5 separate regions of the Homo sapiens genome follow, and all the other regions are reported to be linked to region 1. The links are microRNA targets in miRTarBase. Many come from high-throughput screens and were not tested one by one. Region 1 holds a microRNA gene; each other region holds the end of a gene's coding sequence.
What was found. Region 1 holds the annotated microRNA hsa-miR-96-5p (UUUGGCACUAGCACAUUUUUGCU, at 1,883-1,905, opposite strand). A microRNA usually pairs through its seed, bases 2 to 8, with sites in the 3' UTR of a target mRNA and lowers its output. Matches are read on the target gene's strand: a 7mer-m8 pairs with bases 2 to 8, a 7mer-A1 pairs with bases 2 to 7 and ends in A, and an 8mer does both.

Region 2: the mRNA of RAB35 is a reported target of hsa-miR-96-5p. Seed matches in the 3' UTR shown: 7mer-m8 at 1,045-1,051, 7mer-A1 at 2,404-2,410 and 7mer-A1 at 3,018-3,024.
Region 3: miRTarBase lists ZNF185 as a target of hsa-miR-96-5p. Seed matches in the 3' UTR shown: 7mer-m8 at 2,751-2,757 and 7mer-A1 at 3,396-3,402.
Region 4: miRTarBase lists FBXO21 as a target of hsa-miR-96-5p. Seed matches in the 3' UTR shown: 7mer-A1 at 3,237-3,243.
Region 5: miRTarBase lists RASA1 as a target of hsa-miR-96-5p. Seed matches in the 3' UTR shown: 7mer-A1 at 802-808 and 7mer-A1 at 1,056-1,062.

The regions. Positions count from the first base shown.
Region 1 is chr7:129,772,857-129,777,435 of GRCh38, forward strand. MIR96 (microRNA 96) reads right to left here and starts at 1,913; the gene lies at 1,836-1,913. MIR183 (microRNA 183) reads right to left here and starts at 2,158; the gene lies at 2,049-2,158. RefSeq lists enhancers at 377-1,238, 4,082-4,579.
Region 2 is chr12:120,093,544-120,098,122 of GRCh38, reverse strand. It overlaps RAB35 (RAB35, member RAS oncogene family), which reads left to right. Exons shown (of 6, transcript NM_006861.7): 6 at 750-3,024. The coding sequence ends at 878. BICDL1 (BICD family like cargo adaptor 1) reads right to left here. Exons shown (of 10, transcript NM_001367886.1): 10 at 3,629-4,579. Among named protein-coding and RNA genes, the nearest start is that of RAB35, 21 kb to the left of the region's middle. RefSeq lists an enhancer at 4,039-4,579.
Region 3 is chrX:152,969,562-152,974,140 of GRCh38, forward strand. ZNF185 (zinc finger protein 185 with LIM domain) reads left to right here. Exons shown (of 25, transcript NM_001395254.1): 24 at 882-980; 25 at 1,713-3,913. The coding sequence ends at 980. Among named protein-coding and RNA genes, the nearest start is that of PNMA5, 22 kb to the right of the region's middle.
Region 4 is chr12:117,142,855-117,146,854 of GRCh38, reverse strand. FBXO21 (F-box protein 21) reads left to right here. Exons shown (of 12, transcript NM_015002.3): 12 at 578-4,000. The coding sequence ends at 768. Among named protein-coding and RNA genes, the nearest start is that of TESC-AS1, 45 kb to the right of the region's middle. RefSeq lists enhancers at 3,384-3,463, 2,864-4,000.
Region 5 is chr5:87,390,163-87,394,741 of GRCh38, forward strand. RASA1 (RAS p21 protein activator 1) reads left to right here. Exons shown (of 25, transcript NM_002890.3): 25 at 638-1,754. The coding sequence ends at 721. It overlaps CCNH (cyclin H), which reads right to left. Exons shown (of 9, transcript NM_001239.4): 9 at 4,112-4,322. The coding sequence ends at 4,284. Among named protein-coding and RNA genes, the nearest start is that of CCNH, 20 kb to the right of the region's middle.

The sequences.
Region 1 (4,579 bases):
ACCACCCAGGGGCTGAGGGCAGCTTCTGTCATCCGGCCTTCCCCGCTAGGCAGGAAGGAGCAGAACCCTGGCCAGACACTCCAGAGGCTCCAGGGAAAAGCTCTAGAACCGGTCACTGCCAGGGGCCTTCCACCCCCCCTTGCTGGGTCTCTGTGCCCACCCCACCTCCAGGGCTCATTCTCACTCAGGCCGGGAAATCCCTTCTTTCCTATCCCATGGGACCTGCAGCAGGACGCCCTAAGGAAGCACCCGGGGCGGAGGACTGGAGCACAGAGACAGGGTGCGGCACAGGCCAGCCAGGTTCCGAGGGGCAGAGGGAGAGCTGGGGCCATCAGAAGAGAGACCTAGCTACAGGGACACCTCACCAGGGCAGAAGTCCCCTTCTATCCTGAAATAAACAAGCCCCTCCTTTTTTCTGCAGGGGCTTGGAGAGCTTCTGTAGAGAAACACGGGCACCACACCCCAGAGGGAATTTATTGGGGGCTCCTCGCGGTTTGGTGATAGCTAACTGACAAGAAAAAAAAGGCCCAACCCACCCAAGGCAGTCCCCAGGGCACCCAGGCAGGCAGCACTGGTCACCATGTTCCTGCTGTGCAGTCAACTGGACCCGTCATCCTCCAGCTGCCAGCTTCAACCACACACATCCCCCACCCGGGCACTCCCTGGCTCAGACACCTAAAATGACTCCCACTGATCTGGGCTAAGTCCACCAACCCTTGCCTGAGGCTCCCTGGGGAGAAGCAGCCCCATCAGGGGCTGGCCCAGTGACCTGGGGCATGATAGCTCCCAGCTGGTCCCAAGTCGGCCACTGGTCTCCTGCTTGATTGCTGACCACCAGATTTCACATGGGTCCAGCCTGGCTGGCCAGGCTCTCCCCAGCTTTGACAGACTAGGTCCAGGCCTCCCAGCCTCAGTCTCTGCCATCTGGGGCATCCTTGGGAGCCCAGGCCTGTAGATTCAGAGCTGAGACACCTCCAGGCCCTGGGTGCCTCCATGGAAGGTGTGGCTGGTGGCGGAAGAGCCACAGTGACCCAGCTCTACCACTCACCAACCTCTTCAGCCAAGCCTTTCCTCTCAAAGCCTCAGGTTCCCCATCTATGAGATAACTATTTTAAAAAATTACAAGCCCCACAGGGCTGAGGTGGGAACTGTTGGGATTATATATGTAATGTCACCTGACACCCAGATGGAGAGCATAGGCCAGTTAGTCATAGCCCAGATCCAGGGACCCAGGAAGCTACATTACCAGTGTGTGGTGTGTGAAGGGGAACATTGGCCTCTGCTCCAGAACCTTCTAGGGGCAGGCCTGAAAATGCCCTCCAACTCCGAGCCCCACTAAGTATCCTCCTCTTGGAGCTGTTCGGAGATGACCCACTCCACAGCAGGCTACAGCTCCAGAGACGGTAGCCCCCCTGGAAACACCCAGGCTGACCTCAAGGGCAGCCCACCTGCCTGGAGCTGCCCCCTTCACAACCTGCAGCAGAAAAGACCAGGCCCTGTGCTGCCAGCCAAGGTCTCACCCCAAGCGTGTGCTGGGAGCCTGGCTGGGCCTTTCCAACCCACGGCACCATTCAGGATGGCCCTACAGATGGTTTCAGACTCCCCCACCTCTGCCCTGGGCGGCCCCATCTGCTGGCCCAGCTCAGATTGCTGGGCTCCCAGCTCTACCGTGGCCCCAGGCAGTGTAAGGCGATCTGGCTGCCCACCAGCGCTGGGCCCTCACACAGCAGCTGAGCCAGATGGGCTGGGGAGGCGGTGAGGAGGCCTTGAGGAGGAGCAGGCTGGGGCCCTGACACAAGGATGCAGGGGAGGCGGACGCAGCTGCGGGTCCTGCTTTTCCCATATTGGCACTGCACATGATTGCTCAGAGCGGAGAGACACAAGCAAAAATGTGCTAGTGCCAAAATCGGCCAAGCAGATGGCACTGGTGCGGGCTCTCTGGGGACACACTGGACGAGGGGCCTTGCATCCCTGCACCCTTGGAAGCAGCCTGTTTCCGACGTCTAGGAGCACTCAAGGCAGAAGTGGGTAAGGTGCTCCGGAGGCCCTCGTGGATCTGTCTCTGCTCTGTTTATGGCCCTTCGGTAATTCACTGACTGAGACTGTTCACAGTGAATTCTACCAGTGCCATACACAGAACAGGAGTCACACTCTGCGGCCTGCCGACCCTGCGGAGAGACCAGCGGCCCACGATGCCCGTTCCCTGCTCCTAGCCTGCCCACTCCCTTGGGGGCCCCCCAGCAGGCCCTCAGCAGCGGCTGCTACGGTCTCTACCCCCCACCCCATCCCACCTCTTCACAAGATCCACATGCCCCATCAGCCCAAGATGACCTTCAAGGAGACAGGGACAGTGCGGGAGAGGAGCTGACCTTCTGGCCTTGCAGAGGAGAAGACCACACCAAGGTGTCTCCTATCTCCACCTGAAGGCCCACATCCCTCCACATCACCCAGACTGCGCCTCCAGGCTGGGGAGGGAGTGGGTCAGGACCATCCATCTCCTTGCCAGAGTAACTCTGGCTCGGAGAGGCAAGCAGCTGGCCAGAGCCTCCTCTCTACCCAACCTGCCACAGGGGCAGTGACCAGTGGGACATCCAAGATGCCTCTCGTAGCCTCTGAGCCCAGACACCAGCAGCCCAGGCTCCTAGGCACTTTGGTCTCCATTATCCTCCACCCCCCAGCCTGCCCTGTGGCAGAAACAGAGCCCCAGGAACAAACCGAATCTGCTGCTCACCCCCACTCCCATCCCAAACCAGACCAGATTGGGCCAGACTGTGAACCGCCCAGGCTGGGCATCTCTGCTGCCGGCCTAGGATCAAGGCAGGAAAAGGCCAGGAAAGGAGGGCAGAAGAGAAGTCCTGCAGCCACCCAGGTGGCTTGGAGGGAGCCGGAGGCACGGATGCACTCTAGCAAGGGAGTGGCTCCTGGCTGGCTCTGGAGTGACTGCGGAGGAAAGCGGAGGCTCAGGAGCGAGGGAGGGGCTGGGAAGGTTGCATCAGTGGTTGCCAGAGCAGCTGCCTAGAGAGAAGTTGCTGTGGAGGCCCTGCCTCTGGTGTCACAGGCCCTGGGGAAGGACGGGAAGAAGGGAGAGGGTGGGAGGGAGGGTCTCTGGGGAGCTGGCACCCAGGGCAGGCAAGCTGGGGCCTCCGCAGAGTGGCCACTAGAGTCTCAGCCTACTCCAGGTCAGCGGTGGCCCAGAAGGCAGGGTGGCTAGAAAATATCCTGGAAGGGTCAGAGCAGGTGCCCTGGCCCAGAAACTATGCAGACCTCTTGGCGATGTTACCCCCAGGAACTACCTCCCGTGGACCTCAGAGCTCCATCTGGGTACCTTGGCCAAAGCCATCCGCTCTCCCCTAGACACTGCTTAATGCTCCACCCTTCCTGCTCCCGAGGACTCTTTGTCCTGCTCCCACACACCCCCACTACAGGGCTCTGCCCTTCTAGCTGGTCTATCTCCCCAGAGGACAATCCAGCTTGATGAGGTGGTGATCTCAGGAAGTCACTCCTCAGCCTTCTGCCTCAGTTTCCCTTACTACAATTTTCTGAACTCTACTAAGGAAGAGAGACCAGACTTCCCAGCCTTGGGTGGGGAGGGGAAGGGGTGATGGCAGGGTGTTAGCAAAGAGTATGGGGTGGGTAGTTATGAACATTGCTTAGGGTGTAGCCATAAGCATCACCCAAGGAGCCTGTTGAAATGTAGATTCTTGAGCCTGCCTGGAAATCTGCATTTTAATAGCACCCTGACAGCTCAGCATGGGGTGGGGGTGGGGGTGGGAAGATCTATTTTGAGAAATCTTTCCCAAGAAGCCTCACCCTGGGATAATTAAACAGAATGCAGAATTCTTCTTTCTTCTGGCTGGGCGCAGTGGCTCACACCTGTAATCCCAGCGCACTTTGGGAGACGGGAGGATCGCCTGAGGTTAGAAGCTCGAGACCAGCCTGGTTAGCATGGTGAAACCCCCGTCTCTACTAAAAATACAAAAATTAGCCAGGCGTGGTAGCAGGCGCCCGAAGCTGAGGCAGGAGAATCGCTTGAACCCGGGAGGTGGAGGTTGCAGTGAGCAGAGATCGCACCACTGCACTCCAGCCTGGGCAACAACAGAGCGAGATTCTGTCTCAACAACAACAAAAAAAAAAAAAAAAAAAAAAAGAATTCTTCATTCTTCTTTTGGGGACAGCCAAGGATGGGGAGAGGCAGGTGTTAGGGAAGGGGAACACGCAGCACCTTGCAACCAAGGAGCCACAGAGGCCTTAGAGCTGGAGAACAGATGGAGCCAGGGATTCTGCTCTCCCCAGCCCAGGAAGGAATAAAAGGGACCCCAGGTAGAGGAGAGAGCCCTGTAACAAAGCAGCCAAACACGTACGCTCCTTCAAATTGTGGCATCTCTGTCGAGCTCCTTGGTCTGTTTTCCTCATCTTTGTAACTGACATAGGATGGAATACAGGGAGCAGCTCGCAAAGCCAAATCCCTCTCCACTTCCAGTTCTAGTCGGCTGGGCCAGGTTCCTCCCCTGCGCCTGCCTCACCCCTCCTAACCCAAATGCGACAGGAAGCCCAAGTGCCGCAGTGCCTGGGGGGTGCC
Region 2 (4,579 bases), not on the chromosome of region 1:
CACGAGGTCAGGAGATCGAGACCATCCTGGCTAACATGGTGGAACCCTGTCTCTACTAAAAATACAAAAAAATTAGCCGGGCGTGGTGGTGGGCGCCTGTAGTCCCAGCTACTCGGGAGGCTGAGGCAGGAGAATGGTGTGAACCAGGGAGGCAGAGTTTGCAGTGAGCTGAGATCACGCCACTGCACTCCAGCCTGGGCGACAGAGCGAGACTCCATCTCACAAAAAAAAAAAAAAAAAAAAGATTCCAGCTGAAGGAAAGGGGTTGGTCTCTCTAAAAGAAGGACTGGAAAACCCCTGTGAGATTGACTTCCCCAAGTCCACACAGCTCATGGGCCTCTGATGGTGTTCCTTTTTTCAGACTTATTTATTTGTTGAGTCAGGGTCTAACTCTGTCATCCAGGCTGGAGTGCAGTGGTGTGTTCACAGCCCACTGTAGTCTCGATCTCCTGGGCTCAAGTAATCCTCCCACCTTAGCTTCTCAAGTAGCTGGGACTACAGGTGTGCACCACCACTCCCGGCTAATTTTTGTGTTTTTTGTAGAGGTGGGGTTTTAGCAATGTTGTTCCTTTTTGACCTTTAAATAAAATAATTCACCACCTCCTTCTAGAATAGGCTTTGAAGACATACATACCAAAAATGCACAGGTAGAAAGAGCTGGGCCCCGGAAGGCGGGGAGGCAGCCGTGCAGGCCAGCAGGGGCCTCCTGGCCAGGTCTGAGGCGGGCCCTTCCTCTTTCCTCTCCACAGATGTTCAACTGCATCACGGAGCTGGTCCTCCGAGCAAAGAAAGACAACCTGGCAAAACAGCAGCAGCAACAACAGAACGATGTGGTGAAGCTCACGAAGAACAGTAAACGAAAGAAACGCTGCTGCTAATGGCACCCAGTCCACTGCAGAGACTGCACTGCGGTCCCTCCCCCAGCCCGAGGCCCACGGAGGTTCCTCGGGGGACAGTCTCAGTTTCGTGCCGTTATTTAAAGAATTCTCTCCATGTTTTTGTATCGGGAGGTGCCATCGGCACTTCCTCCCCCGCCCTCCTCGAGTGCCAAGAAGGTGTTGGACCAGCCCGCCCTTCCCTACTGGTGCCCCCTCCTCCCCGGCCAAGGCGCCTGGACCTGGCGAGGACGCTGCCCGCCGAGCGGACTGATTCGCAGAGTCTGTACATAGTGTATATTGCTCTACCCGGCCGCACACCACGTCCTGCTCTGGCTTTTGCCTTCTTGATGCCAGCCTGCTGCAACAGACCCTCCCCGCGCCCCTCCCCAGCCCATCTTACTGCAAGCAGCGTCCTGAGGAGACAGCGGCACGTTCTAGCTGCGTCTGCGGCCAGCCCGTGCCAGTGGAGTGGGCTCCGCGTTGCTCATTCTCTCCGACAGGTTGTCAGCCTCTGTCCCCGCTGCACAGGGTCTTGCCCCTTCTCCGGGGCCTGTGCCAGCTCCCTTCCCTCCCCGTTGTCCTGTCCCCACAGCCATTCTGGGAGCTGGGGAACCTGGTCTCAAGGCAGGCCCTGCAGTTCCACAGAGGTGGCAGGTCTTGCCCTTTGGCCAACAGATTTCTTGTCCTGCCTTCTAGATGCCTCTGAGCTCCAAACCCAGGGCAGCCATGGCTTCTCATTTACACCAACAGGTTTCAGTTCCAACAGAAAGGTCGGGGTAGGTTCGTGCAGAGATGGGGCTGGCAGGGGGGCTATGGGAGGATTATTTTAACAGATCAAGAAAATGAAGCCAAATCAAGTGAATTAAATTCCTCACAATTATTTTCTTTCCCTGAGGTTTGATTGGCACAGCAGCAAAAGTTGAGGCCACCCCACTTGTGTCCACTGTTTTTAGAAAAAAATGAATGGCTTCCTGCCATTGTGGGGCTGGACTCTTGGGCTTTCTTGGTGGGAGCGGAGAAGGGGCCTCCCACCCTTGTCCGAGTTGCCTCCCACTGGAGGTCAGGAGTCTACACTGCAGCCTCGGGCACTGTGGGGAGTGCATGCCTGGGGCCTCTGGGTGGGGACCATGGACAGGCCCTGGTCACTGTCCTAACCTTTGTCAGGACAAAGGTAGCAAGAGGATTTCCTGGCGGGTGGGAAGGAATGGCTGGGGCGGCCAGTTTTGACACGCCCCAGTGCCCTGGAGAACAACCAGGGTCATCTGCACTTGATGACTGCTCCCCGACCCCCAGCCCGGACACCTCATTCCCCTCCCACTACAGGGATCAAGTGACCTGGGAAGAACCGAGTTTAACACCAGGATGTGTTTCCTTAGATTTCCTTTCCTAGGCGATTTCCAGGGAGAGCCCTGATTGGACAATCACATCACAGATCACACTGCAGTTTCCATGTTAGCACTGTGGATGGGTTTTTAATCAATAAAAACTGGGGGTTTCTTCTCACCGACTCTCCACTTGCCCAAACTGCCAAAAGCTGGTGATTCTGGGACAGGCCTTCACTTTGGAGCCACGGGATGGGGTGGGGGAGCCCCATGGGCCTGGGAAGGAGGGTGCTGTGGAGGGGGCTGCAGGGCTGACCAGCAGGCAGCCTCATCTGGTCGGGGGCGGGGGCGGCAGGAGCAGAAGCGGGGTCTCCGTCCTTGGGACTGTCCTGGTTGGCCACGGGCCCTGAGGATGCACGGTGCCTGGGGCTCCTGTGCCGGTGGGCGGGGGGCATGCTGGCCTCTGAGCGATCAGGCGAGGCCAGCGAGGGTGTGCTTGCAAATTCAAGCAATAAGAGGGGGGTTCCTGGGGGCTTCCAGCCCAGGCTAGAAGCCCCCATGGCTTCTGGCAGCTGGACATCAGCCCCAGGTATTGGGGTGATTTTGGTCATGACAGTGTGCCTGTCCCACTGTTACACGCATGAATGGGGGTTATGGGGTGGGGGTGGGGACTCAGGGCTGGACCGACGTCCTAGTGGACCTGATGTGAAATTCCTGTCAAACAAACACCACTTTTCAATGGTTTGCTAGGAGTATTTCTGTATTGAAAGTTTCTAATTATGCTTTTTAAAAAAATACTAAAAATAAAGGTTCAAGCTGCCAAATTTTCTTCCAGGGTCTGTTTGCTCTCCCTCCAGAGATGTGCTGAGTGGCCGTGGCTTCTTCCCACCCACCGTGTCCTGCTCTTCCCTGTTCTTGGCCTAAGTCTTGCACAGGAGCCTGTCGAGGCCCTTGGGACACTTCCAGAAGCCAGGTCCATTTTCTCCATGAACAGGTGGGCCAGGGTTGAGTCTCCCCCTAGTTGGACTGGGAGCACATGTGGTAAGATGCCAGGGGAAGCTCCGTGTTTATCCTCCACATGCCTGGAAGGATGCAGTGGAAGCCTTTGCCTGGCGTGGTTTCTTTCTGGCTTGAAGTTTCTGCCAAGCTTTAGGGCCCTGCTGGCCTGGGAAGCAGCGTTGGCAGGCCTGCCTTGCGGATGGCACGCTGCAGCACTGGCAGGGGGCAGTGCCAGGCGGGAGGGGCAGGGGAGGATGCCCTTCCTGGCCAAATCCCTTGGTTAAGTAAGTACCAGCATCTGAGGTGGCCCGGGTGCAGGGGAACCACTATTGCTACCTCTCCAGCAGCAGCCAGTGGTGAGTCTGACATGTCAGCTGCATTCAGACCAAACCCGCCCCCCGCAAATACCCAGAGACTGAGGCAGGAAGCTCTGTAGAAATTCATTTTATTCTTATTCAGACTATTTTCAAAAGAAGCAGTGGTGTGCTGTTTTTCTAAAAATATGCCTTTATAGATTTTTATATATGTATATTATAAAATCCATACATGTATTTACATGATTGCTACATACAAAATTACAGCACTGTGGTATGTACACATCTACAGGTACATTCTTGCCGCGCATCCCTGCTGTGCTTTCCCCACGTGAGGGAGGGAGGGAGACTGAATCGGTTGTGAGCAGCTGAGGGCTGGCCGGGCCGCGGAGCCTCTGAGTTGGGGCCTGGGTGGAGGAGGAGGGGCGGCTGCAGAGGCAGGAGCAGCAGCCACTGCAGGCTTCTGCAGGCAGGCAGGCAGCATCTGGAGGCTTCCGGCAGCCTCCCCCTCCCCTCCACCCCGTGGTGCCTGTGCTGCCCTCAAGGTGGGGTGGCTGACCACAGACCCCTCTGGTGCCATTCAGTGGCCTGGACTTGTTTGGCTAGGCCAAGAAATTATGTATGTATGTGAGGGGTGGAGGAGGGAGCTGTGGGAGGAGGAGACCCCGTCCAACCCCAGCCCTGAGCAGGGGAAAGGGCTGGATGGCTAAAGCCTGCAGATGACTGGTGATAACACTCTGCCTGGCCAGGCCCTGCTAAGGGGCAGAGACTGAAGGCTGGGAGGGAGAGCAGTGGCGACAGGGGGACAGGGCCTTCTTCCTCCCTGGGGCTCGGGTGGCCTCAGCTGAGCTTGGGTAAGCCCCGGCTCTTAGACCCTGCGGCCAGAGGCTTGGCCTCCTGCCAGCTGAGGTGCATGCATGCGGGGGAGGGGCTGCCATCTCTCCTTTGACCCTGGGCCAGGGGCTGGGGAAGGAATGGAGGCTCAGGCCTGGCCCGCTGCCCCCACAGGTCTAGGCCCCTGGGGCTCAGGCCTCCTGAGGCATGCAGAGAAGGGCCTCCATTCCTT
Region 3 (4,579 bases), not on the chromosome of region 1:
CGGGAGTCTTACGGGTTCAGAGACTGTGGAGGAGGCTTGATCTCCATATACAATTGCACATAGTCGCAGAGGCTTTGCACAACTGGGAGCTGAATGAGCTTCCAAGTCTAAGACAGTAGATGAGTGTTGGTGGTTCTGCATGCTTAGTACTGTAGGGAAGACAAAAGAGGTCTTTTCAGGAAAGACTATTTCTGGCAGAGGGCCAGCAAGTGCAAAAGCCCTGGGGCAGAAGCACTAGAGTGTTCTAGCTTGCGTGGGAGAATGCCAGGAGTGACAGAGTGGGCTAGATCATGTAGGCCTTGGCGGGCACAGAGTTTGGATTTTATTCTAAGTGACATTGGGGTCCCCATTCTCCACAGTGTGTGGCACTTTGTAACCCCAGGTTGTTGGTTCCAATCCATTTAGGGTGTCACCTCTGGGTGCACTGAGAAAAACAACCCTCCCCTTTGCCTTGACAGAATGTTAGGCAGGCTTCTGTCCTCCCCACAGGGCCTGAACTTTGCTTGCTCCTGGTTAAGTAAGTGCTGCAATGCAGAACATGCCCCACTTAGCAGCTTCTCCTGAGAACCGGCTGACCACAGGGAAACACATTTCTGGTCAAATCATGCCAAACAGGTTCCCCTTTGCTTGCCCACTGGCCCTTGAAAGTAGCTGAGCTGCTAGCTGTGCTTACTACTCCCTACTGAAAAAAAAGGCTTTTTTTTGTATTATTTTGTGATGTTTTTTGTATTATTTTGTGATGTTTGCAAGTCCTGAGGTCCAGGATGTGCCACGGGCTCACAGCATCTGCTCGCCCACCTTGTTCAGGCATCCCCTTCCCACTCCACTCATTCCTCTTGCTTTGCTTTGTGTGTTGACCTCCAGCTTGCTTTTCTTTTCAGTGTGGGATTTGCAGTAAACCGATGGGCGATCTCCTGGATCAGATCTTCATTCACCGTGACACCATTCACTGTGGGAAATGCTATGAGAAGCTCTTCTAGGTGGGTGCTGGCACTGCAAAGGACAAGTGGCCAAGAGACTCATTAAGGAGTAGAGATGCACCCTGGTCTCTCCTGGAGTCTCAGCCCCAGACACAGCTATCTTTCTTGGCTCTTCCTTATGTTCAGGGGGCCTTGTGTCCTCATGTCCCTATGCCTTGTGATACTTTGAGATCTTAGGTGGCATGGACAAAGGCCCTCAATGAGGACACTTCCAAATCACACCTTCCGTCCAGCACCTGAGCCGAGCCCTCTAGCTACCCTGGGATACTCGCTCGGCCGCTGTTGTTAGCCCCATTTTGCAACAAGGAAATAAAGATATAGAAAGGGAGGGGACCTGGAGAAACCCAGGTAGAATCAGGACCTCACCCCAGGTCTTTGGATTCTTGTCCAGGGCTCTCTGTTCACTGTCACTCGCATAGCTTCAGATCAGGACTGCATAGCCATGGTGCTCAGTGAAACAAGCCTCTGGGCCACATTATGAGAACTGCCTGAAGATGTGTGTTTGCATGCTCATAGCCAGTGGAATTTATCACGGTGTCTGAGCACAGAGCAGAATATATCCCTTGAAGGCAGTAGCAACCAGGCTTTCCACTAGCTCCATGCTGATGGTCTTCTCTCCAGAAGACACACCTTGAGCTAGGTGGTAACTCCTGATGACTGGAGCAGTCACCCACCCTGAGGGCCTCTAGCTGATGTGTTTCCAGTCTCATGGCTACTTCTGTTTTCTTTTAGCGACCCCCCACCGCCAGGCTGATCAGAAGCTGATGACTCGTGGACAAATTTGGCTGTCCCCAGTTTTGCCCCAAGTTGCTGTCTCCCCTTCCCTCACCTCCTCCCTCCCTGTTTGATTTCTTCATGCTTTTGCCCTTCTCAAGTTGAAGTTGCATACATCCAATATCGTATCTTAATGATGCTATGATAATTGCTTGTGTGTGTAGCTTCTTGTAGCTTAGAAAGCGCTTTATGCCCATGATGTCATTTCAGGCTCAACCAAAGAGGATCAAACAGGAATTCCATCTTGGCTTCCCTAAGACAGATTGGCTTTCTAATGAGTTTAAGTGGGCAGAAGTGTAGGGTTCAGTGTGTCCTGACTCCCTTGAGGCTTATAATGGGCCAAGTTGAAGACTGTTGATGATCCCTGGTGGGTAAATTGCAGACATCAAATGCTAGGGATTGGCATAGGCTAGTGTTTAGCTTGTCTATTTGCCATATCTATTTTTTTTAAATTTCCATACACTTGTAAAAGTAGTTAGTTGCTTTTGATTGAGTTATATAGCAGTTTTTCATTTGGTCTTCCACTCACCTTTCACTATATTTGAGTGTTCCCTTACAGGTATGTTGGCATGTGTTGGAAAATTTACACAATTAGGTTTAAATTCAGTAGGATGTGATTTTAGGATGCTACTGATCAAAGTGATATCTGTGTCTGTTGGAATCTTGATAGCTGATTAATTTGCCCTCAATTCTGCTCCCTGAACTTCACACATAAATCTTCCCAAGTGGGTTTTAGGGTGTATAGATCCCAGCAGGATTAAGGAGGTGGAAAAGCAGCTAACATTTCTTGAGGCTCTACCACATAGCAGGCACTGTCACAGAGTAATGGCATTAATCCCCATAATAATCCTGTGAAGGTGATATTCTCATCCCATCTTAGACATGAGGATATTGGAACTCAGAGAGGTGGCTATTGCATTGCGCAGAACGCTACAGAGCCCATGCTCTTCCCAGAGCAGCACCCACAAAAGCAAGCATTGATTTTGTGCTCAGTGTGTGCCAAGCACTGTGCAGAGGGTACACAGTTCCTGCCAGGTTAACACCCTCCCTTCAGGCCTCCCAAAGGCATAGGCTTGCAAAGAGCAGAAGGTGTGAAATCACACTCTTCCTCTGGGCATCCTGGATCCCTGAATTATCCCCCCCCCCATGAAGTACTTCAAGGGCCAAGCTGCCCCTTTCCCTCCTCTCCGCCCATGAAAATGCCTCCAAACTGAGATGCTTTCAGCTGAGAACAGATTTGACTCACAGACATTACCAAAGAGGAGCTTGTGAATCCAGGAAAAGCTCCAGGGGGCTAGCTGATCTGAGCAGAGAGCTTTCAGTGACCCATTTTCCTGTCTAGACTCTGCCTTAAGCTAGTGGCAACTGCTGGGGCCCCAGGTACTTGGGACATGGAAACTCGTTGGATGGCTGGGCAGATGTAAGCCTGTCCATGCAGTCAGCCGATCCTCTGCTCAGGTTCAGCTGGACTCTGCCATCTGTGGGCCCAGCATCACTCTGTAAGTTCCTTGAAAGGAAGAACAACCTTAGAGTATTTCTGATACAAAATGAGGGCCTCTGCTCTTGATTTAATTATAAAATGTCTACGTCTTTCTCCAGTTTCTGAGCCCTATGCACATTGGCTTGTGGGCTTGTTCTTCCTGCCAAATGATCAGAGAGGAACATTCCATTTATTTGTAGTGGATTTCCTCTGGAGGGCATGTACCCACACTAAATACCAACTGCTCTTCCTCAGCTGTAGTCCCCAACATCAGACTTGGCACGTGGTGGACACTAACACACAGGCACTCAATGAATGAGTGAAGGAAATAAAAGTCACCCCGTTGGTGAGAGGTGCTATCCCTGAGTCTCAGTGCAGGACCAGTGGATGAAAGGCAAGGTAAAGAGGCCCAAGATAGGCTGGCTTCCCCCGTTCAAGGTATAGTCTGCCTTTAAGGGAGTTTTAGAACCAACATGCAAGACATTGAAAGAAATCTTGCAAGAGCCATTATTGACTTAGATCCAAAACAGCCTCTCTCATGTCTAAAAAGGCACAGAATTTTGCAGATCTGAGGAAGAGGGATGCATTACCTTTTTGCTTCTTTTCAATTGCTTAGTGTTTCTAATCATACTTAATCCACACTAATGTGCGCAATTATAATAAATGGTAAGATATCACATGTGTCAGTGTTAAAGTTTTCTTTTGAAGTGTAATAACTTGGTGTATTCAGCTGTGTGATTTCTTTATTCCTATTGCCTGAAGCCATTCTCTGTACAAAAGTAAACAAGTACTTAATAGCAAGCTCTAGACACTGGGCATGCACAGGAACTGTGGAATTCTAGACACATCAAATCTTAATGAAGAATATTGTATTGTGGCGGCAGAGAGCGGGGGCGGTCCATCCTTCTCATGATTACCACTGCAGACAGACAGCCACCTAGTCATTAGTGCCCACTTCCAGTGACCAGGAGCTCAGTTCCTTACAAGCCCCTGCTGTCTGTGGTTTTAGAAGATGCATTCTTCAGTTGAGTTAAAGTCCATTTCTGTATGTCACCCACTGGTGGTCTTTAATCCCTCCGCTAGATGCCAGCTCTTAAAATAGATGAAAATACTTCTCAGATTCTGTCTTGGTCAACTCTTCTCACATTTAAACACCCCTGGTCCCTCTAACTCTTCCTTGACAGTAATTCTGAATACACATCTCTCAAAGGCCCTCCTCAAAGGTGACCCCAACACATACTCCAACTCATTCCTCTAGATGTGTACCAGTGTAATCTGCATGCGATCCAAGTCTTGATTCAACCCAGGGACAGGAAAGGGTGATCAGGAAGTCCAAAGATAGACA
Region 4 (4,000 bases), not on the chromosome of region 1:
GGAGGTGCAAGCCACCTTCCTTTCATCCCACGGTCTCACAGCAGCCCTGGAAAGAGGCTGCTCTCTGTTGGAAGCTAAGGGCCAGTGTTGGAAGGAGCTCGGGTGGAAAGTGTGGTCTGCATGAGGGGCTCCTGTGAATAGAGGAGAGGGGTGGCAGGTACGAGACTTGTCACCATGTGACATGGCAGCTTCAGAAACTTAGCCACTGCCAAAAAAAGAGCAGGCAGGGATAATGTTGTCCCATTGTCCAGTCAGAGAGACCTGTTGAGTCTCTAGTTTGCCAGTCCCCAAGAGACCTTTGGAGTTTTGCTGGAGCCAGACATCCTGCTTAGAGATGAGGAAGATCCTGCTGTTCCGTGGGGAGCTCTTGAGACACCCGTGCCACCACCCACCTTCTCCTGATTGCCACTTGCTGCCCTTTTCCCATTACCCTCTCCTGACTCCATAAACATCTTCAGTCTTCCCTTCTCCACCCCAAAAATGCCACCTGGAAGGGGTGATGGGAGGTTCTCTGGATGAAAGGTGTGGCAGCAATGGACATTGTAATGAGAATGCCCGTGTGCCTCTTTACCAACAGAAAACTTGGAATATAACGTGGAGCCTCAAGAAATCTCACACCCTGACGTGGGACGCTATTTCTCAGAGTTTACTGGCACTCACTACATCCCAAACGCAGAGCTGGAGATCCGGTATCCAGAAGATCTGGAGTTTGTCTATGAAACGGTGCAGAATATTTACAGTGCAAAGAAAGAGAACATAGATGAGTAAAGTCTAGAGAGGACATTGCACCTTTGCTGCTGCTGCTATCTTCCAAGAGAACGGGACTCCGGAAGAAGACGTCTCCACGGAGCCCTCGGGACCTGCTGCACCAGGAAAGCCACTCCACCAGTAGTGCTGGTTGCCTCCTACTAAGTTTAAATACCGTGTGCTCTTCCCCAGCTGCAAAGACAATGTTGCTCTCCGCCTACACTAGTGAATTAATCTGAAAGGCACTGTGTCAGTGGCATGGCTTGTATGCTTGTCCTGTGGTGACAGTTTGTGACATTCTGTCTTCATGAGGTCTCACAGTCGACGCTCCTGTAATCATTCTTTGTATTCACTCCATTCCCCTGTCTGTCTGCATTTGTCTCAGAACATTTCCTTGGCTGGACAGATGGGGTTATGCATTTGCAATAATTTCCTTCTGATTTCTCTGTGGAACGTGTTCGGTCCCGAGTGAGGACTGTGTGTCTTTTTACCCTGAAGTTAGTTGCATATTCAGAGGTAAAGTTGTGTGCTATCTTGGCAGCATCTTAGAGATGGAGACATTAACAAGCTAATGGTAATTAGAATCATTTGAATTTATTTTTTTCTAATATGTGAAACACAGATTTCAAGTGTTTTATCTTTTTTTTTTAAATTTAAATGGGAATATAACACAGTTTTCCCTTCCATATTCCTCTCTTGAGTTTATGCACATCTCTATAAATCATTAGTTTTCTATTTTATTACATAAAATTCTTTTAGAAAATGCAAATAGTGAACTTTGTGAATGGATTTTTCCATACTCATCTACAATTCCTCCATTTTAAATGACTACTTTTATTTTTTAATTTAAAAAATCTACTTCAGTATCATGAGTAGGTCTTACATCAGTGATGGGTTCTTTTTGTAGTGAGACATACAAATCTGATGTTAATGTTTGCTCTTAGAAGTCATACTCCATGGTCTTCAAAGACCAAAAAATGAGGTTTTGCTTTTGTAATCAGGAAAAAAAAAAATTAATGAACCTTAAAAAAAAAAAAAAAGGTTTTGAAGGGAAAAAAAGTGGTTTCACACCTCTTGTTATTCCTTAGAGTCACTTCAAGGCCTGTTTGAATGTGGCAGGTTAGAAAGAGAGAGAATGTCTTTCATTTGAAGAGTGTTGGACTTGTGTGAAAGGAGATGTGCGTGTTGGAATCTGCTTTTCCAAGCCGCCAGGGTCCTGACGGCAGCAGGACGAAGCCTGTTGTGGCGTCTTCTGGGAAAGCCTGACCGTGTGTTCGGACGGCACTGGCTCCTTTCCGAAGTTCTCAGTAACTGAGCCCAGAGTAACTGCACGCCTTTGTGCAGCTCTGGAGCTCCACCAACTCTCGGCCTGCCAGTTCTCAAGCGAGCTAATCTTGTCATTAATCGATAGAAGCTAACTTCCGAAGTTAGGACCTAGTTACTTTGCTCTCAACATTTAAAATAATGCAGTTGCTCTAGTGAATGGGGCGTTAGGGGCCTGTCTCTGCACCTGTCTGTCCATCTGCATGCAGTATTCTCACCCATGTTGAATGCCTGCTGCTTGTTTACCCTTTGGAAACCCTGGGGTGACCAAGGTTTGGAAAGCCACCTGAGACCACTTCATAGCAAGGGAAGGCTTTAAGCAGTTACTAGAAAGAGATGGGGATTTGGCCCCTGGCTCCTCCAGCCTGAATGAGCTATTTAATCCACTGTCCATGTTCCTCATCAGTCAAATCCAAAGTCAAAGGATTTGAACCTGCATCTGGAAACGTAACCACTCACAGCACCTGGCCCGCCAAGGTTGGGAGGATTGTACACTACTTTCATTTAAAGGGGAAAGTTTGATAATACGGAATTAATTAATATGAATGAGATGCATTAATAAGAACCTGAGCATGCTGAGAGTTGCAATTGTTGGTTTTCTGGTTTGATTGATTTCCTTTTTTCTTAGACACATCAAAGTCAAGAAAGATGGTTTTACCTTTACTGACCCAGCTGTACATATGTATCTAGACTGTTTTTAAATGTCTTTCTTCATGAATGCTTCATGGGGCTCCAGGAAGCCTGTATCACCTGTGTAAGTTGGTATTTGGGCACTTTATATTTTTCTAAAAACGTGTTTTGGATCCTGTACTCTAATAAATCATAAGTTTCTTTTTAAAAATTTTCCAAAACTTTTCTCCATTTTAAAAAGCCCTGTTATAAACGTTGAACTTTCACAATGTTAAAATGTTAAATATTTGGATATAGCAACTTCTTTTCTCTTCAAATGAATGCCAAGATTTTTTTGTACAATGATTAATAAATGGAACTTATCCAGAGAAACCACGCAAATGGCCTGCCCAATTTCGTTTGAGGACAGAAAGCCCAGCCATGACTTGAGTAGAATGTCTCTCACCTCTCTTCGGATCTAAATATGAAAAGTATGTTCTGCTGAATTTTTCTGAGCATTGGTGAGCGGACAGCCTACCTGTAAACCATGACCTCCTTGCCAAACGTTAATTTTATCAGCTCACTAGTAACCTTTGAGAATTATCTGGTTGTCATGCAAAGATTGCACTTTCTGAATTATGTTAAAACACATGTTGTAAAATGAGAACTGCTCATGCTTTGAAAGAAAACCAGGTTCTTCGTGCGTTCTGTTGCCGTTGATTTGAATGGCTGTGCTGTATACGATGTGTCCAGAATGTCTTCAGAGCACTGTTTCCGTGTGATGTTACTACCTACTATGTGGGAGGAAAAAAGGTTATAGGTTAAACAAAGTCAATTGACTCTATGGTGGTGTTTCTCAATACCTGTGACGCACAGTACTGTGCGTCGTGACTTTCTAAGAGAAGTGTGCAGCGGGTGTGTCATCTTGATATATGAAACCCTGGAATTTCCCTCCCCTACACGCACGCACCGTCCCCGGGGGTCCGGTGTTTGCAGACATGCTTTGAAAAGCTGTCTCAGTGAGACATCAGTTATGTCCAAAATGAGTTTACCTTAGAATCAGACCGGTTTTGCCAGGCGTCATGTTTGCAAACATTATCCACCTAATCAGATTTTGAAAGGCCGGCTTTCATGTCGCCTGCCTGAGACTCATAACAGATCCCCATTATAAGCGCGTTTACACAGCAAAATGATTTTATTGAGAAAACCAGCATTAAGTACTGTTGCCGGCTCAGTTTTCCATTGCATACTATCTACTTAAAGTCCCGTTCTCATTTGTAAGTGTTCCGATCTTTCCCCACGGAGAAAACTGAGCAGAGCT
Region 5 (4,579 bases), not on the chromosome of region 1:
CAGGTCAATTAAGATATTGGAGATATAGAACAAAATGAGTTACACTTTGAATGTCCTCAGCTGACATAAGGGCTACTGAGAGGAAGTGACCACAGGGACAGTTTTGACTAGTTTCTAATGTAGTTTCAGGAGATAGTGAATGCTGTCACCGCACTGGCTAACCATTTGGCAGGGATTTTGTAGAAGGGATTAAAGCATTGAGTTTGGTGACTGAGTTCTCTACAACCTGAGATTCTAGAATCCTCAAGTCCTGTTTCTCCCCGCCCCTCCCCCCGCAGCTTTCAAAACTAATAATATGACTTGACTTGCCTTAGATATTAAATAAAAAAAGCCTTTTTTAAAAGAGAGATAAACTGCTTCTGACAACATGTGATAGTGTGATAGTTCTGGCCTAAAAAATAGGAGCATGCCAAACACAAACAAATTTCTGTTCACTTTAGGGTATAAAAATTCTCTTAGTTATGACCAGAAATACTCAGCCAATGACTGAATAATAGAGACTTATGTTTTGAGGGGAATTGTGGTAATATTTTATGCATCCTTTTGCTTTGATACAGTTTTTTTCAAATCCAGGTTCCCATCCTGAAATTGCTGACCGAGCTTTCATTTATTTTCATACCATTTTTCCTCTGTCTAGCACGTATTGAAAAAGCTTCTGGCTATAACAGAACTGCTTCAACAAAAACAAAACCAGTATACAAAAACCAATGATGTCAGGTAGCAGCCTTCGCCCCAGTGTTCTGCATGGATTCAGCATGTCCAACATGGTAATTCACTTCAGTTTAATGTCTCCTTTGCTCTTGCCAAAAAATAGCACACTTTTCCACATTCCAGTGATGTGTGAGCTATGCAAACAAAATCCAAGATTCTGCTGGTGAATAACTATGCCAGCAACCTTGTAAGCTATCTGTGCAGGATATTTGCACTATTTCCACATGGAATCAATCTTTAACAACCTCTGAGCCTTGGTGTACAGACCACCTTTCACAAAACGAAATGCTATGACTGTATCTTGATATCTCGAACTTTCAAAATATATTTTCAGTACACCCAGTTGCCAAAGTTTTGCTGTCTCTTAGAGAAAGAACTATGAAATCAACTGACAAGAAACACATTCTTATTGACAATTGTGTATAACTGGATTGCAGACTGTTCTTACTGTAACTACTTCCTGATTAGGAATATGACCATTTGACTGTTCAATGATTATTTGTATTTACAGTTTCCAGAGTTTGTCATTATAATAGGAACAATCTTTGCTGTATACTTTTAAAAAATACTCTGCTATTTCTCTTGCTGGAACTGTTGAAAGAAAATATATAGAATGATCTATTGCTCATCAGCTTTATTTTTTAAACATACGACTTATTTTGTTGAAATTGTCAAAGACTGTATTTAGATCTCATAATGCTTTGTTAAATGTTTACAAGTAAATAGTTTGAATTCAGTAAATATTATTGGTTGTTGTATTGATCAATGCATGTTACCCATTCAACCATTTTATAGACTACCAATTTCTTTTATGTTAACTAGAATGCTTTTGTTAAAAGTTATTTGTTCATTATTTGTGCTACCCCTTTGATTATGCAGACAACCTCATCAGCTGCCTAACTTATCCATCTTTGAACTTCTGACTACTTGTTGTATCTGCTGGATATTTAGTTCAACTGTATAGTTTTATTTACTTCTGTATGTGTATTTTTGTGAAGTATTCACAAAGGTTAAGTTAAAATAAAACCAAGGGATATCTTGCATAATTGATTACTTCTGTCTAAAAGAGCTAAGCATTTAATTTATTTATTTTCTTCCTCCTTCAGGGGCAGTTTAAACCTTAGCATCAGAGCAAGGCCCAGGGAGAAGCTGAAGCTTTAGATTAGTATTTTTGCTAATGGCCTCTTTTGAAAAGGATTTTATAAATGCAATAATTCCTTCCCTCTCATAATTGTGCAGGGCAGATAGATAGGACATATGGAACATACGTGGCAGAATGACATTGGTAATCAAAGTGAGTGAGACAGGAACCCAAGGAGGTGTTCCCACAGTAAGGAAAGCCCTAGATTCCAAGAGCAACACTTTATGCTATTCCTCTAATGTATAAAATACAGGAAAAAAAAATGCTAAGGGCTTAAAAGATGTCTGCTTAGTAGTTCCAAGCTACAAAAGGCAGTTATTTCTATGGGGGCTGCTAACCTATGTGGCTTCAATCACCGTTTAACACTGATACCAAAAATCTCAACATGTCCCATGCTCCTTTTCCTTGAAATCAGCTCAATTCATTCCATTCTCTCCCTTCTTGGCTCTTTTATCAAATTACTCTCCTTTCCACCCCTTCTGTTTTTTAGCTGGACTTGGACCAACATAGTATCCCAGGTGGTCTCCTTCCTTGGTTACATGATAGAAGACAGGGAGGATATGGATTAGTCAAGATATTTTTGCTGTGCACTTTGGCTCCCATTTATCACACCTCAATCTTTAGCCATACTAACCTGTCATTCCTCAGTCTGAAATCCTTCTCCCTTTTATTTAAAATCACAAACCTGACTTACCCTGCTTCTTATATTTTAACATCATTTGTCTCTCAAGTTGAAATGGAAACTTGTTACTTACCTTTGTAGGCCCTCTAGTAACTAGCTTGTCAGTGTTGAAATAAAATCTCTCACACTTTAACGTTTTTAATGGGGCTGGGTGGGAAAATTTTCAGTGATAAGTGTGGACCTTGCTCTGATGCCAAAGTTTGGCGATCTGAAAGGGAAAATGAGACAAATTGTGAACATCTTGTAATTCTGTCTAGAGCCTAGCAGCAATATATTTAACTAGGACTGCGATGGAGGATTTATAACTTTTGGCTTCTTCCACTCTGCTTTTGTAAAAATCTCACATCACGAATTTTATTCCTTTCACTCTGGAATGAGAAAAAAAAAAAACCCACAAAACTCAAGCCTACAGTGTAAAGAATTATTGTTAGAGAGATGAATATGCATATAGTAAGTATTGCCTTAAAATAGATGTAACTATAATGGTACCTACCTTTCTGGAAAGTACAGCCTGGGATGTACTGAGACTGAGGAGGTGTGTGTATTTGTGCAATTTAATTAGATTCAGGACACTTGAATTACTCGGAATTCCTTCAAGCCAGTTTTCCTGAAAAAAATCTGGCTTGGTAAACAGACGTCCACAGTTTGGTTCCAATTATAATAGTTAACACTTACTGAATACTAGTGTATGCAGGTACTATTCTAATTAATCCTATGAAGAGTAGGCATTTTTATCTTCCCCATTTTCAGTGTGGGAAACTGGCACTTAGAGGTTTAATAACTTACCAAGGTCACATAGTGAAATACAGCTGGCCATGATTCATATGTAAGTAATTTGCTGTAATAGTCTGTGCTTTCATATTTTTATATTGACTCATTTCAATTTGAATTACATTTCTCTAACATATTTAATCTGCAAAATTCCTAGTAACTGTTATAATCTACTTACACGGATTCACTTATAGGATCTAATAGGTTAATTATAAGGCTGTGGTGATGTGTGCCTGTAGTCCCAATTACTCAGAAAACTGAGGCAGAGGATCACTAGAGCCTAGGAGTCTGAGACAGCCTGGGCAACATAGCAAGACCTTACATCAAAACAAAATTAAAAAACAACCACAACTGAATATACAATTTGCTGCTACCTACTTATCTATACTAGCGTAAGAGTTTGATGTAGACAGCTATTCAAAATCATATATCTGGTTTTTTTTAAAAACCCATTTGGAAATGTTTTCGGGTAACTAAAGAAAAATAATATTCATTACCCAGACGACTGGCTTTCAGTACCATGTAACAGTTGAAATACCTTCTGCAGTTTAATAGTAATGGACAAATAGCTAAATATATCAGGATGGCATTCAAAAAGCCATTTATAAAGGTTTCTAGAGGGCAAAACACATTCCTTAACACTTTTAAAGCTGGCTACTAAGTTTTGTTTTTTGTGGTGCCTTTTTTAAAAAAAGCATAGGTTTGCCTATCATATTTTGCTTAAAAAATTAGGCAAATGAGTTGCAGCTTTAATTTGATATTAGTCACGATGGAATAAGAATATTCAAAACAGGTGCTATTCTAGCTCTTTTGAAGATGGTTTATTTTACATAAAGTTACTGTGAAAGGGAAAGAAAACAATAGAAAAGTTTTAATATATTTTATGTTTTCACATTATACTTTTTAAATAAAGTTAAACGTTTGATATGCTTCCTACTTCTCTTGATTAGTTAGCATTGAGAAATCAACTTCAAATGGTTAGAGAGATTCTACCAGGTCGTCATCAGTCCATTCTTCCTAAGAAGGAAAAAAAGTGTGGTAAGGATAACACTGAAGCATAACCAGTATTGTTTACCTCTTACCTCCCTTTAAGAAAATGTTCTCCTCCTTTTACCCATGTGGATTACAAAAGATAAACCAGGAAATTTTGTAATAGTTCACTGTTAGTAATGTTGGCATGGTCTCACCAGACTCCTCCAGTGAGGAATAAAGGTTATGGCTGTGACCTTTTGCCTCTGATTATTCACTTATTTGACTTGACAGATAGAAAATTT